Regions from separate parts of the Homo sapiens genome. Here region 1 is linked to region 2. Evidence: fine-mapped expression QTL. Tissue or cell type: whole blood. Region 2 holds a variant in brackets; the other region holds the start of a gene. All regions are shown on one strand. Distances are from middle to middle.

The links. PIP is the estimated chance that this variant, and not a neighbour inherited with it, causes the effect.
Region 1: it holds the start of ENTPD1-AS1, and the variant in region 2 is fine-mapped to the expression of ENTPD1-AS1 in whole blood (INTERVAL, PIP above 0.99). The same link has a PIP of 0.9 or more in CD4 T cells and blood mononuclear cells.

Annotation. Positions count from the first base shown.
Region 1 is chr10:96,086,359-96,094,465 of GRCh38, forward strand. ENTPD1-AS1 (ENTPD1 antisense RNA 1) reads right to left here and starts at 3,877. Exons shown (of 6, transcript NR_038444.1): 1 at 3,624-3,877; 2 at 2,908-2,949. RefSeq lists enhancers at 3,597-3,966, 3,977-4,026.
Region 2 is chr10:95,904,569-95,912,675 of GRCh38, forward strand. It overlaps CC2D2B (coiled-coil and C2 domain containing 2B), which reads left to right and starts at 3,407. Exons shown (of 35, transcript NM_001349008.3): 1 at 3,407-3,489; 2 at 6,733-6,791. The coding sequence starts at 6,756. The region is part of intron 2 of ENTPD1-AS1 (ENTPD1 antisense RNA 1); the gene reads right to left. RefSeq lists enhancers at 3,434-3,623, 3,664-3,723. The variant C/G (reference allele first, on the strand shown) is at 3,378.

The DNA of each region.
Region 1 (8,107 bases), 180 kb after region 2:
CATAATTACGGTTGGAATAATTTCTCCTGTTAACATTATTCTTACACTTGCCCACCCAAAAACTTGGAACACTTTTCTGCCCACTGACATAATTTCAATTATGACATAATTTCAATTGTAGTTTATTTTTATTGTTCATAACTCAGAAATATTCAATATTATTTGTATACTAGGAAAGATAGTATGCCTAATCACCTCCAGAATACTCACAAAAATTAAATAAGCTATCAAATCACATTTTTAAAACTTTTTTTACAATCAAGATTTCTAAAAATTAAATAATGTTCCTATACTTTGGCCACTTTAAAAATAAATCAGATTCTTTGTTGGAAAGTCTATAAGCCAGCATTTCAATTTTTACTATAACTCTTCGAGGAACAAAATATACCCCATACTTGATGACAATCAGCAATAATCAGCAGAAGAAAAGATATTTGGAAAGAAAGACAGTTTACAACAGTGAACTTCTGAATGCAAAAAATTTCAGTGCAAAATAGTTTTACACTATTAATACTATTGCAGTCATGTGCTACATAATGACATTTCACTGACGGTCCCATAAAGTTATAATATTTTTACTGTACCTTTTCTATGTCTAGACATGTTTACATATGCAAATACCATTGTGTTACAACCACCTATGGTATCCAGTACAGTAACATGCTATACAGGTTTGTAACCTAGGAGCAATACGCCATACCATACAGATATGTAGTAGCCCATACCATGTAGATTTATGTAAGTACACGCACAATAACAAAATCACCCAACACATTTCTCAGAATGTATCCCTGTCATTAAGCGATGCATGACTGTGTATTTTATGTCTAATTCAAGTCAAACACAATTTTTTAATATTGTATTTGTAATATGAAATGAAGACGTGGCAGGGCACAGTGGCTGATGCCTGTAATCCTAGAACTTTGGAAGCTGAGGCAGGCAGATGGCTTGAGCCCAGAAGTTCAAGACCAGCCTGGGAAATATGGTAAGACCCTGTCTCTACAAAAAAATTCAAAAATTAACTGGTGCGGTGGTGTGTGCCTGTAGTCCTAGCTACTTGGGAGGCTGAGGCGGGAGGATCACTTGAGCCTTGGAGGCAGAGGTTGCAGTGAGCCAAGATAGCGTCACTGCACTCCAGCATGAGCAACAGAGTGAGATTGTCTCAAACAAAGAAAAAAGAAATGAAGACTTGTTTACTTCATTGAGTAAATGATTACTGAACACTCACTATGTGCCAGGCATGTTCTCAATATGGGGGATTCACAGGTGATAAAGACAAACATAGTTTCTACTTTTCCATTATCATGAAGCCCAAATTTTTTAAAAATTTATTTTGCAGATGTCATCAAACGAAGTCTATGTGTTATCTTGAATCATTTACATTCAAAAATACTTAATCCTGCAATAAAATGTTAAAAAGTCACAGATGTTACAGAGTCAGGGTTGAAAAAGAGCTCATTAGTTCCAAGATGCACATTATTTTACATTTTGACATCTCTGAAATCAGTCACATCTTACAATGTAATCAGACTAGACGGCAATGGAGATGGAGTTGGCACTGCCGTGCATCAAAACTTCAAAACTCAGAATGAGCACTAGGGGCTTGGAAGAAAATCCCAGGTTTGATGGTAAAGGCACCATTTTAAGGAATTTTTTTTTTTTTTTTTGTGGTAGAGATGGGATATCGCTATGCTGACTGACCAGGCTGGTCTCAAACTCCTGGCCTCAAGCAATCCTCCCATCTGGGCCTCCCAAAGTGGTGGGATTACAGGCGTGAAGCACCACACCCAGCCTTAAGGATTTCTGATGATTCAAGATTCAATAAAACATAATAGTTCAAAGTTTTCATTTATTATAGGTGAGGAAAATGAAATTCAGAGTGGTCACACAACTTGCCCTAGTTTACAAAGCTGGACAGGTAGAATAGAGTCCAGGTCTGTTTTCTACAGTCATTCACTCTTCTACCAGTGTTCAGTTATATGGAGGAAAAGGGTGTCATACAAAACAAGTAGGTAAGAAGATGGCTCTAAGTTACAAAGACGGATTTGTAACTTAATCCGTCCTTGCCTCAGTTTCTCCATCTATTAAAACAGGGATTTAACAAACCTAACTCACAGTACTGCTGTAAGCATTAAATAAAATATGTCTAGCAATTATCACAAAGATTGGCATATGGTAAATACTCCATAAATGTCAACTACTTGAGATCAAACTTTACATTTATTATACACTAAGTCAAGCCCACATATAGTTGTCTAAAGCGCTTGAAAACTAAATAAACTGGTCAAGTGTTTGAAGTGATAAATACAATGAAAATTTCCACCTTAACAATGTTTTGTCCAGGTACTATGCCAAGAACCCAATAGACCTACCTGCAAGAAACCATACAAAAAGCAAGATTCCAGGCTGGCATGACGATCAAATTATGTACTTCAATGCGTGTGAATGCATTTATAAGCACAGTCTCAATACATAAATAAGGAACAAAATATTTAAAATGTATAAACAGATCATTTCTCTTTGCTTTCTTTAAAATACTATATCAGAATCACCTGAGGAACTTGATAACAATTTTTTTAAAAACTATTATAACTACGTATATTAAGCCTTGTTAAAACCACAAGTTTTAGAGGTTTAAGCCTTACTAGGTCAGCTCTTCTGATTTTGAGAGTTTAAGTGAAAATTTAAATTATAACACAGTATGTGGAGTAAACCTGCTTCAAATATTAGTTTCTACATTATTGTTTCTATAAAAATAGTAATCTTCTGTATTTTAATATCAACTCATCACATATTAAATATTTCAGTCAAATCAAAATTTCATTTGAAATCTTCAATCTAAAAAATACACAGTTAAGCGCTTAAAAAGTAATTTTAACCACTAGGAAATGTTAATGATTAACTCACATTTGTTTCTGTTTCACTCCATGACAAAGTCTATAGGACACCCTGCAGAGAGGAAAACTCACATTAATATACCCATAATTTTACTTTCAGAAGCTTCTGGTAATCAAAGACTTATTATGAGGTGTCTTCATGTTACCACTGCGCAGTAGCAAACTTAAAATATTCTAAAGATTAATCTATTTTCTCATTTTTTTAATGCTTTTGTTAAAATCTCAACAAGTACTAACATGTTATCTAAATTTAAACCTTAAAACAATAACACGACCCAATATGTGAACTCTGCCTATTAATTCTAAAACTTTTAATAATAGTTTGCTTATGTTTGAGACTTAAAACAATAACATACTGCACTACACCCATCTTAGATATTTTCTAGGATCAAAGTCTATCTGGAGCAGGGCAAGCTGTGGTTGAGGGTGGTTGGGTCAGCAGGTAAGAGCCTTATGACCAGCTCTAAACGCCTCCACGGTGAGGAGCACCTCGAGCTAACAGACCAAGCACCAAAGGGTGGAACAGCTCAAGGTTGCATTTAGGAGACTCCAGCCTCGGCCGCCCGTGACTCCTCGACGAGCCCCACCTCTCTCGGTTCCAGCATCCGGCCCGCCCCTTCCTCCCAGGCTACCACAGTATCGCCCGCCGAGCTCCCGGGCTGCGGGAAATGACGGAAACAAAAACTTGGTACACAAAGAAGGGCTAGGTCAGAAGTGAGGTCCCACCCTGGCAAGAAGGGCGACTTTTCTAGAAAAACTTAGCGGCAAGTTAACGGGAAGCGCGGCGACACAGTTCCTACGATTGTGGGGGGCACTCTGCCGCCAGGCAGTCTCATCCTTTGTCCTTTGAGAGGCCTCCTTGAAGCCGAAGGCTCTTAAGTGTCCCTGGGCAACCCTTGACTCGATCTCCATTACGGGCCCTCACTGACAGCAGCCATGACAGTTGCTTCCGGATATATTGAATCGCCGCGGCCAGAGTCTCCCGGAAGTGACGCAACGCGGAGGGATCCGCGTTCGGCAGTGGGAGACCGAAGCGAAGTGGTTCCCGGAAGCGGCTGCAGCTGGGCTGCTGGTGGCGGGGCGGGGGTAGAGTGGGGAGAGAGGTTGTGGGTCTTACAACCAACCAACCCCAACACGTTTTACGTGTTAGGCAGGCATTGTGCTGAACACCTCATTGGCAAGCCATTTAATCCCTTCCTTACAATCCCAGCAGTCAGAAATGTATCACTTACATTTTATATATGGGGAAACTAAGGTTAAGAGAGGGCAAGTAAATTTGTCCGAGATCGTATAGCTGGTACTTGGTGAACGTGGTCTAACCCAGACACCGCGTTCTCCCTGGTGACTCCATTTTGTAAAACCAGAGCTGTTGGCGCATGGCATCCTCGTAAGCCCCTTTAAGTTAGGCACTCTGTTGCCCAGAGAGGGGCCAACTTGTAGCCAGTATGCTCTTTATGGTGAACACAAGGCCCACGTGTGTGCCTGGGTCCCCTTGGCTGAACCTCGGATTTCAATTGGTTTCTGACACCTTGCCTTTGCAGCATTCTCCGTCTGCAGCGCTGGTTACCTGAGGAAACTGTCAATGATTGCTAGGCTCTGGGGAACATTTTAGCTCCGTTTAGGCCCTTTTAAATCCAGGACTAAGACAGTTGGAGGCCTCTCACCATCACCAGATACTCTAGCTGGCCTTAACAGAGGGCCAAGGACCATAATCTTGGACTTTCCACCAGACCAAGTGTTTGTTTGGCTTCTGTTTCTTTAGAATATGACTGAAAACCAATCTGTAGTTTGTTTAGTCTTCTTTCTGCATTGACCAGTACTCACATAATAAAGTGGGACTAGCCACTAAGGCTATGTTTTTGTAAAAACAAATTATGCCTAGAAAAACACAAGAAATACATCAAAATTAACAGTGATAGTGTTTGAATAGAGAGTGATTTTATTTTTTTCTCTCTGCTTTCTCTTTTGCATATCTGCTATAAAACCCTTTTAAAATAGAAAAATAAGCAAACTGGCTATGGTAAAAACATTTTTAATTGCCTGCTGTTATAATGACGGCAAAGGCATGTTGTCACATTTTGATAAATGACCGTCCTTGATACAAATCACGTAGAGAAATCCTGTTTGACTAGAAAAGCATTGGATTTTTGTGAGTCAGTGTATTCTCAAAATTTTCGATATTTTGTTTTGGTTCTATAATCCTCACAGGAAAAGTAAAAAAGCAAATTGATGTTTTTCACACACTTTCGTATGAGAGTATGCTACCACCAAAAGTCTTCCCTAAAACAAAGTTGCAGGGGTCAAGTCATGTGGGGCGTTTGGATACTTGAAATGGTGGAGAACAAATATAAAAAGCTATTTTTATTCTGGCTGCTTTGGGGTACAGTTTTAAGCAATTTATTTCAGACTGCCAAAGAAAGCTTCATTCTTTATTCACATACTCTACTTCCCACTATTGCTTATTAGTGACTTCTAAAGCAGTGACAAAACAAGTAAAAGAAGATAGAAAGGAAAAATGAGAAGGGATCACGGGAAGAAGAAAATGTGGAGGAACAAAGACAGATGGTGATATTGGGGTTACTTTGGAACTCCAGGGTAGCATGTAACAGCCTTCTTATCCAAGTCCTGGCACAGGCCTGGTTGCCTACTAAAAGGTAAATTAGCATCTATGATGTTCCTGCTCACATACTCAGCACCCACAGTGATAAGTCTTACTAAAAATTCATCTTGATGCGCATTCAAATTAGACATATATTTTAACAAAAATGGAGGGGTTGAACAACAAGAAATGTAAAGTAAAATCCCATCATTTTTCCTGTTTTTTTATCTTACCATGTCATTCATTCATCCTGTGGTTAGTAGTATAACTATAAACTGGAAGTTTTGCCTGCAGCATTATAAAGCAACAACTATGAAACGCCAAAGTGAGGTGCTGACAAGATGCATGTTTTCCAAAGAAATGTCTTTACATTAGTCTGGCTCTGATGAGAAGTTGTTATGATGGGATTAAATGTGCAACAATTTTATTAGAGGAAACACCTGTGAGAGAGAATGGGCGGGAGCCAAGCAAGACTGGGAGAGGCTGCAAGTCTGAAATTGAGTAAAGCAGAGAGAGAGGGAAGGGTGGTGGAAGTTTCCTGGACTGCCAAACAGTCTAAGCAAGATTTAGAAAGGCTATTGGAAATCCTCAAGCCAAAATCACCTGTCAGAGGAGTCCTTCTTTCAGGAGCCAGCCTGCCTTATTATCTGTGCTGCTCTCAGTCACCGGCTGGAGCAGCCCATGGGTGAAAATGTGGCCAGGGAATTCAGAGTGCAGCAAGCATCTAGAGCCCTTGATCAGTTTTGCTCCCTGTATTGGCAGCCACAGTCCAAGAACTGGTTTTGCCGCTATTGGAACCTTTCACCAGTTTCATGGGTTAAAAGAAGATGTTGAAAGAGATGAGTTTATGAGGAGAAGTTTTGGGGAGAGCCATTGTTATATGCTTCCCCAGTCACCTTCAAGTCTAGTGAAGGGGGCTTCAATAGCAATACTCAGAGAACTTGACATGCATTTCCTGGGTTTTGAGAGGTACAGTAGTATCGTGACTCACATCTGGGAAATCCCAGGGGTAGGAGAGATGGGCCAGTGAGAATTTTGGCATAGGAGTGAAGGAAAGTTGCTATGTTGGGATCTGTAGTCACTGCCGTAGTTTGTCAAGGCAAATGATGCCTGAGTGTTTCTCGTGCAGCAGATGTGGGCCACGTGAAAAAAAGAGAAAGTTGGCCTGAGACCTTTTTGACTCTTGTGTATGGAGAGAATCTGTATGGTATGGATTGTTAGAGAAGCCATAGCTGTAGATGGAGCAATAGCTGGAGGAACAGAATGTATTGCCTATCTAGAGTGACCAACTTGTCCAGTGCCCTTGGACTTTCCCTGCTTTAGTACCAAAAGTCCCAAGTCCCAGGAATCCATGTTTGATCATTCTGTGTGTCATAGGAGTTGCAGCATCCAACGAACCTAAAAATCACCCGTGAGAGTGAGCCAAGTTTAAGTTTCAAGCAGGTCTAGAGTGTAAAACCAGCTTATGACCATGCCGGGATTAAAGTAGATTTTAGCAGAGGACAATTTGAAAATGACGCTGAAACAAAAATTTCTACACACTCTTTTTTTGGAGTGTGTATTAGTCTGTTGACACAGCCAAAATACCATAGACTGAGTGGCTTACACACAGAGATTTATTTTCTCACTGTCCTGGAAGCTCAAAGTTCAAAACCAGGGTTTTGACCAATTTGCTTTCTGGTGAGGGGCATTCTTCCTGGGTTGCAGCTGGCTGCCTTCTCACAATATCCTCATATGGCCTTTCCTCGGTACATACTCGAGATGAAGAGGCGTGGAAGAGAAAGAGAGAGAACTTTCTGGTGTATCTTCTTATAAGACACTAATTCTGTCAGATCAGGGACCCACCCTTATGACCTCATTTCATCTTAATTACTTCCTTAGAGGCCCCATCTCCAGATATAGCCACAGCGGGGGTTAGGGCTTTACCATATGAATTTGACGGGCACACAAACGTTCAATCCATCACAGAGTGTGACTCTGCAACACAGAGATACCTTTTTTGGGTAGGGGCGGTCATGAGAACATTAGGTCTGTGTTTATGTCTCACACTCTTAAGGAGAAGTTATGCTATGGTGACTTTGCAGCCCTGTATCTTTATGAACAAATGTAAATATGATGTCTATAGATCGTTTGTGACACTTTTAGAGCTCTTTAGACATTACTTTAATCTTGTCAAGGAAAGTTGGATACCCAGAGGACCCTGTTATTTTTGTGTTCTGCAGAGCAGAGGATGTCACACGCTAATGTTCACACTACTGAACTCATGAGGAAACCCACAACAGACTCTGTGTACATAGTGATCAGGACTTGGGCTAAGCCCTGGGGCTTGTACTTAGCTACAGGGACTTAGTAAACAGTGGAACTATTCTGATAAGGGATATGTTACTGCTTCTATTTATGAAATTTGATTTTTTTTAAAGTTAACACAGGATTGGCTAATCAGAGAATATATCCTCTTACATCTTTTTTACAAATATGAACTCAAGTAGTTGTAAGACTCCAGCTTAAAAGGCCAGTATATTAAGAATGAATTGCTGTTAAACAAAACAAAACAAAAAAAAGACAGACATAGATTTGAGCTTCCTTTAGCATCCACTTGATCCTTCCAGGA
Region 2 (8,107 bases):
TTCTCTAAATGTGGCTGTAAAAAAGGAGAGAGAGAAGAAATCTGAGAATAATCCCAGTTGATGGTTTTTCTTTTTGTTTTTGTTTTGTTGGATAGGGCAGATAAAGCCAGGGGAGGGAGGTGGGGAAAGGGTATACTGAAGATAAAAAGGGAGGGTTAAATGATGAAATAAGGCCCCAGAGGAGACAGAATGAATGGGATCTAGGACATATATTGGATCATCTGTAGATAGAAAAAAAAAAAAGAAATAAATCAAACATACCTCTTCATCTGAGACAGGATATCTGCTGATGTTAAGTTGGCCTGGTGGTCAGTGTCACAGTATTCATGTCTGAGAGTCTCTGTTTCCTCTGAAAAAGCCAAGCCAGCTGCTGAAAGTACAAGGTCAAAAGTAGAGTAGGTTTAAGGAACGATAAAAGTTAGAATAGTAGCTGTGGGTGAGAAAGGAAAAGAATGGCTGAGCTACATTATGGACCATGCCATATCATCATGGCAATAATCTGGTTACATGATTTTCACTAATACAATTACCTTTCTATATGAGGAGAGAAAGCAAATGGCTAGACTAAACTAGAATAGGTATGCTGGACAAAAGTGGAAGAAACACAAAAGGCAAAGAAATTGTGGATACTGATGTGGGTAAATAATAAAACAAGGAGTGTGGGCTAGACAAGGAAGAAAGTCAATGTAGGTAGAGGCTGATGATGACAAAATAGTCATCAAGGGACAGCGTCTTCATGAGATCAGGGATTAAGTATAGAAGAATAAGGCAGAGGAAGAGATGAAAGAAACAGGAAGATGAGAAGAGAATACTAGAGTTCGTGATTGTTAATATGGAACAGTCTTAGATATTATGGTCCTGCAGTCAGTCAGTCATGGCAGTAAGTTAAGGGAATATGGGGTGCTGGACCTGTGATACACATGACTGCTTTAGTCCCCCCAGAACCTTGTAGCAATTGAGTATGAAAGAAAGACTGGCCAGGCACAGTGGCTCATGCCTGTAATCCCAGCACTTTGGGATGCCGAGGCGGGTGGATCACCTGCGGTCAGGAATTCAAGACCAGCCTGGCCAACATGGTGAAATCCGGTCTCTCCTAAAAATACAATTAGCTGGGCGTGGTGGTGCACGCCTGTAGTCCCAGCTACTCGGGAGGCTGAGGCAGGAGAATCGCCTGAACCCGGGAGGCAGAGGTTGCAGTAAGTTGAGATCACACCACTGCACTCCAAACTGGGCTGACAGAGACTCCGTCTCAAAAAAAAAAAAAAAAAAAAGACTTGAGTTGGGTACTAAATTCCTTAATGAACATGAGTGACCAGGCAGCTGGTAAATAACAGTGAGGAGAGGGAAAAGGGCTCATTAGAGAAGGGTTTCTGGTAAGTTTTACAAGGGTGGAATGGAATGGCGTAGCAATGGCCATGAGGAGATGGCGAATACAGATACCAGCTCTGGGTCCTGGGGTGGGATGGAATGGCCTAGCAATGGCCATGAGGAGATGGCGAATACAGATACCACCTCTGGGGGGCGGGGGGCGCGGGCAGGCACGGCTTTCGCTGTGGTGAATTGCTGGGAAAGCAGTGTCTCCAGCAGGCATGGCTTTCGCTGTGGTGAATTGCTGGGAAAGCAGTGTCTTCAGGAGACAGCCAGGTACCCAATATCACAAGGAGGAATGTTTTGTGAACAAGAAGATATAAAGACATAGAGGGGTGAGAACATGTGGTGTTTGGTTTTTTGTCCTTGCGATACTTTGCTGAGAATGATGGTTTCCAGCTTCATCCATGTCCCTACAAATGACATGAACTCATCATTTTTTATGGCTGCATAGTATTTCATATGAGAATTGAACAATGAGAACACCTGGACACAGGAAGGGGAACATCACACACCAGGGCCTGTTGTGGAATGGGGGGAGGGGGAGGGATAGCATTAGGAGATATACCTAATGTAAATGACGAGTTAATGGGTGCAGCACACCAACATGGCACATGTATACATATGTAACAAACCTGCACGTTGTGCGCATGTACCCTGGAACTTAAAGTATGATAAAATATATATATATATAAATTTAAAAAAAGATATAGAGGGGTTTACATATGAGGAGTCTAGAAAAAGAGTTTACAGTTTCCAGAAGAAGGCAGATAGTGAGACGATCAGCAGATGGAGAAGGTGTGGGAATGAGGCTGCGAGAAGGGATAAATTATCTGGGTTGTTACCAAGTATGACAGAGACTATAGACAGGGTGGGATTTACGGTCTCAAATGAAACTGTGCCAAGCTGTCAGAGACACTGGGACTCTATTTTGCTTACTAAGGTTAAACACTAGTATTACTTTTGGTCACCATACTATTAAAAAATAAAGACAATCCTACGAAACTTAGGCAATTAATATCAGAATAAAGAGGTCAATAATGTTTATTCTCTATTAACATGTACATTTAGAAAATAAAAGCAAAGCTTAAAAATGCATGGAAGTCTTACACAAGACGACTGTTGGGGCATAATGCCTGACACAGAACGCAGTTAAACACTGTGGAAAGCCTGAATGAGTGAAAGCATACAAACCACCACCGTGCGGCTCTCTACACTAGCAAGTTTCCGAAGTTCGCCCCAGCCGGTTTCCCTGAACAAGTTCCCAACCGCATCACGTTTAGTTTATCTCGTTATTTTAACTCGGAGCGAGGCAATGGGAAAAAGAAAAACAATGAGAGCCGTACTCTGTTTATTAAGCGATGAATGACGACACATGGGTGAGCGTGTCTGGCATGCCCTATTTAAGACTTTAAACATAGTACATTAGTACGCTAACAGCAAGCTCTGGAAATAAAAGGAACCGCTTGCATATTTAGGGGGCTCTTTTGTAAGCCACAAAGGAAATCACCTGAAGTCAAAGCTCCCCTCTTTTCCTAGCAAGGCAGGGACGACGGCAAAGAGAAAGTAGGTCCCGGGGCGCTGCAACCCGTGCAACTTGCCGGCTGGCGTCCCCCGGCCTCGCGCCTCCACGCCCTGCGCGGGCGACCGCTCTTGCCACAACGGCGCCCCGCAGCGTCCTCCCCGGGGACGCCCGCTCAGCCGGGAGCTCGCGGCCGGTACTCACCCGCTGGGTATACTCTTCTTCTTCACCAGGACGAGAGGGATGAGAGACCCACGCCCCAGGCAACCCCGCTCTCAGGCCTCCTCCAGAACAGACCCCAGGGTACGCTACAACTCACACGCTCACGGGCAGAGGCGAGGGGCGGGGGTGATAGACCCCGGCGGCGAACAGACTTGGCGCACCGAAGATTCCCAAAGGCGCGTGCTCCGCTCCCTCTGGGTCCTGGCAGGCCAGGGGCGGCAGCGCGCATGCTCCTGGGTCGCCGCTACTTGCAGCCCGCGGGCGC[C/G]GTAGGGCTGGCGCAGGGTGCGGTGGGGCGGTTGGTGATCATCCTAGCCTGCGGTAGATGGTGCGCCCTGCCTTCCCTGCCCAGACGTAAGAAAAGTGCACTGTCCGTCCAGGTGAATGTCGGGCTGCTGGTGAAGGTTTCTCTGATTCTTCCCTGTCAGACATTCCCGCACTTTTGTGGAGCTCTGCTGCATGGGCAGAACTAGCTGGGCTGGGATAACCGGAGCCGGGGCCGCGCAGGCCGCTGGGACTTGTAGTTCGGGGGCCTGGCCGACCGGTTTGTTAGCCAATTTGGGAATGAGTAGAATTGAAAATCACTCGAGAGCAGTGTTTGATTTGCAAGAAATACGGGTCGGCATATTATTAATTCAGTGCCTACTGTGTGTGCTGAACACCTTGCCTTAGTCCTGATCTTCACATTAGGATAAGCAGGAAGATGAACTTGGAAGGTAGAATGTAATGAACAAAAATTCGCATTATGAACTACAAATGCTGTTGGAGATCAAGAGACAGAGTTAGAAAAAACTTCCTGAAAGACGTGGAGTTTGAATCAGCCTTAGAAACACGGAATGCTATCCATTTGCGGGGAAGTTGTAAAAATTAAAGGTTGGAGATGCCAGGGAGAATAAACAAGAACTCCATCCAGCTATAGTTGAGGGGTTATGTTGGAGAGTGGTCAATGTTGGAGAGTGGTCACTGCGGCTTAGATGGGGAAGTGATGTGAGAGTTTTTTGGCTTCACTTTCAGAAAGGGCCTCCTGGTTGACTTTCTCTCTAATTGAGGCTATAAGTATAGACACAGAGATACATCTTCAGGTTTGAATAAAAAACATTACAGTACTTGTTTAGAGCTTCTGGGCCTCCTGGCCAGTGGTTGCTCTAAGAATTAATACATTTTTATAAATCTTGTAATTCACCTTTGAGTAGCAAAACTACGTTGCATGGTGTGTGTTAGATGTAAATTTTCAAAATATAATATGATAGTTTTTGTAACCTGTTTCCACATTAGTTTTCATGTACCAGAAGTCCCAAGATAGAGAAGTGGGCCCAAATCTTTCTTGATCTACAGGAGCAGGACATGATGACTTGGGAACTGGTCCTCAGAGCAGTGGGTGATTTAGTTTTGTTGCCTTTCGAAGACTTAAATAAATTCACAGATCAGAAAATCTTTTGTCACGCCGTTTGTTCCTAAGTTTTGATTTTGGAAAACAAGATAACAGTTAAGTTAATTTTTAAACTTGCCAGTTAATGCAATACATGGAAGTCATAATGTTTTTTGTAGAACACTGTGAAATACTGCTATATTCCTCTTAACTAAGTAAAGAATTGTTAAGTTAAATTCCACTTCTTCCATATCCTAATAACAATAAAGGGTAGCTGGTGCTATATATTTAATAGATTATTTTTACAAAATGCTATTGTTGCCTTAATTACATCATAACTGTGAATGAGACCTTAATTCTGGACATAGCATCCTAATTCAAATTAAGTCTGGAAGGCATCATTTAGGAAACATTGCTATAAGAGAGTTCAGAAAGGTGTCATCATACTATGTGACAATAGATGAACTGAGATAAAGATAAAATTGGATTTTGGTCTGAATTCAGATCTGCTAAGGAAGGAAAGTGCATTAATACATTTAGAAATATTTCTAACAAGAGCCAGGGGAAGATTAAAGGGAACCAATTTTCTGATTGGATCACAATTAAAGATATGTTACTATATACTAAGATATGCATTGTGTAACCATTTCCACATGCTAGAGGTTTTTCTGTGGTTTTATTTTGCTAGCACTCCTGAAACCAAATGGCCTGTGACAGAAGTAACCAAGGTGACTGAAAATTGTGCCAAAAAGAAGTCTGTGCTGATTCAGGGATCCACATAGTCTTGTGCCCGCAGAATTGATTTAGAAATTTGTTTAGGCAAAGCGCAGTGGCTCATGCCTATAATTCCAATGCTTTGAGAGGCTGAGGCAGGAGGATTGCTTGAGGCCAAGAGTTTGAGACCAGCCTGAGCAACACAGCGAGACCCTGTCTGTACCTAATAATAACAATAATAATAATTAGCCGAGCCTTAGAGACACATGCCTGTAGTCCTAGCTACTCAAGAGGTGGAAGCAGGTGGATCACTTGAGCCCAGGAGTTCAAGGCTGTAATGAGCTGTCATCATGCCACTGCACTTCAGCCTGGGTGAAAGAGTGAGACCCTGTCTCTAAAAAACAAACAGATAAACAAAAACTTGTGTGGCATTCTAGTTTCTACAAATGTCTGGGGAATTGCATGAACTTGCATTTAACCGTCATGTTGAATGATACTCTTGTATTAGGCCATTCTTGCGTTGCAATAGAAGAATACTGGGTAATTTATAAAGAAAAGAGTTTTAATTGGCTCACAGTTCTGCAGGCTATATAAGCATGGCTCTAACATCTGCTTCTGGTGAGGGCATCAGGGAGCTTACAATCATGGTGGAAGGGAAGGGGAGCCAGCATGTCACATGGCAAGAGAGGAAATAAAGGAAGGAGGGGGGAGGTCCTAGACAGACTCTTTTAAACAACTAGATCTCATGTGAACTAACTGAGCAAGAACTCATCATGAAGGGGATGGTGCTAAGCCAACCATGAGGTATCCACCCCCACAATCCAATCACTTCCCACCTGGCCACATGTCCATTATTGGGAATCACATTTCAACATGAGATTTGGAGGAGACAAACATCCAAATAGATCTCTAGTATCTATTAGTAGCCTTTTAATCAATTTCCCTGCCTCCATAGAATATCTATATTTAATCATTGCCTCTTGGCCTTTTGGCTAAGATCAAATGTATATTTAATCAGATCCTTTTTTTTCTTACTGCAAAGTTTTATACTTTTGGGGGGAAGGGAATTCATACATATTTTAATTAAAATAATTCCTTAGTATCTTGAAGTTTTTTTCAGTACCCTTTTTGTGAAAGTGATTTTTTTCTAGTACATTAGCATGTAGGGAAGATACTGACTTTTACATATATTCTCTTGTATTCTGCCAATTCCAATTTTCTAATTATGTCTAAACTTTATTTAGTCTTTTGGGTTTTTCATGTATAAAAACCTATCATCTACAAACAATGATAATTTTGTTTTCCTCTTCCAAGAGTTACACCTCTTACTTCCTTCTTTTGCACATCTTATTGCATTAACCGGGATTTCTATTAAATACTGAAGGTGACCAAATACAAATATGAAATAGTAAAAGTGATAGTATATCTGTTTTGTTTCTTGTTAAATTAAAAAATTTAAAAAGCATACTTTTAACCTCAAGTATCACAAGTCAGTTTTCTTATGATATGTCATTCTCAATAATATTTCTTATTTATTTAGAAAGTTGAAATAAAAGGACCATCATGAAAAAATCTCAAAGAGAAGATATTTTTAAAAAGGTAAGGTATTAATGGAGTTTATAATATTTTGATTATTCCAAATAGCCCTGTTGTAAATGGGGGATAATCCTGATAAATGTGATACATTTGTTTCTATATACAAATCATAAATTCATATGTAAAAAAAGAAACAATAGGAGAGTTTAGGGATGAATTGTATTCTTATTTGGTCTGTAAGTTATTTAATAAGATGAATTATTTATGTATGTATTTATTTAATCTCTTACTTCAATATCTATTTGTTTATATGTTCTCTCACCTAGCCAACAAGCCATTCCCTGCTTTGTTAAAAAAGATGTTTGTCAGTGAGTTAAATCTATATAGGAGCAATATTTACATGTCTCTTAGAGTAACTGCAATTAAGATTCACATTTTATCCCTACCTTCTAGATGGAAATGAGAACTTATGAAAAAGTATACAGGATTCTGGGAATGGTGGGCAAGATATTTGGGAACTAATAAGGGAGACCCTCTATCAGTTACTTGCCAGAATTGTTCCATCATACCTTAAGGGTTGCTATCCCCTGGTCAAGAGTAGAATTAGGTATTTTTTATTGTCTTGAGGTAGGTACTGAAGGTTGAATAAGATGTAAGGGAACATTGTAGTCTGTGTTGACCTTATTCAGTAGTTTTTAATAGTGGTACAAGAACGAATAGTAGATTTTGAAGTTTTTTCGGAAAGTTTATAGACTGGGCTCTTTTTATGATATTTTAACTGTGATCATGTCAATAGCCTGCTTTGGTTTTTGACACAAATTCATGTTTTTACTGTGATTAGAAAGCTTGAGATTTCCAACTGCACATTAGTTTGGTTAGCATGTACAGTTGTTATTTCAGGAGTCTTTGCTATTATATTTTTTAGCATTAAAATTAAAAAGAAACTTATAACCATATCATTCTAAAAAGGGTTTAACATTGCTAGAATAGTTTACCTATAGAATATTGAGGTTTATAAAAACTGGAAAAGAAATGCTTATTTTAACATACTGAATTTTTGTTGATGATACAACATTCAACTAGAATTACCAGAAGTCAGCTAGAAATATGATTTTGATGCTTAGGAGAGTGAAGGCTGGAGACACAGATTTGGGAATCCATGGGAATATGTGCACCCTCCAAAGCTTTGGAATGTACCCAACATTTAGGATATGAAGAGGTATGACCATTGAAGGATACAGAAATAAGTGGCCACAGAGGTAGAAGGGTAGAGGGCAAGGATATATAAAGTTTTCAAAAAATAAGGTTGCTGAACGTTGCCACACGCTGCAGGGTAATAAATCAAGTAATAGCTAAAACTAGTATAGCATTGAATTTTC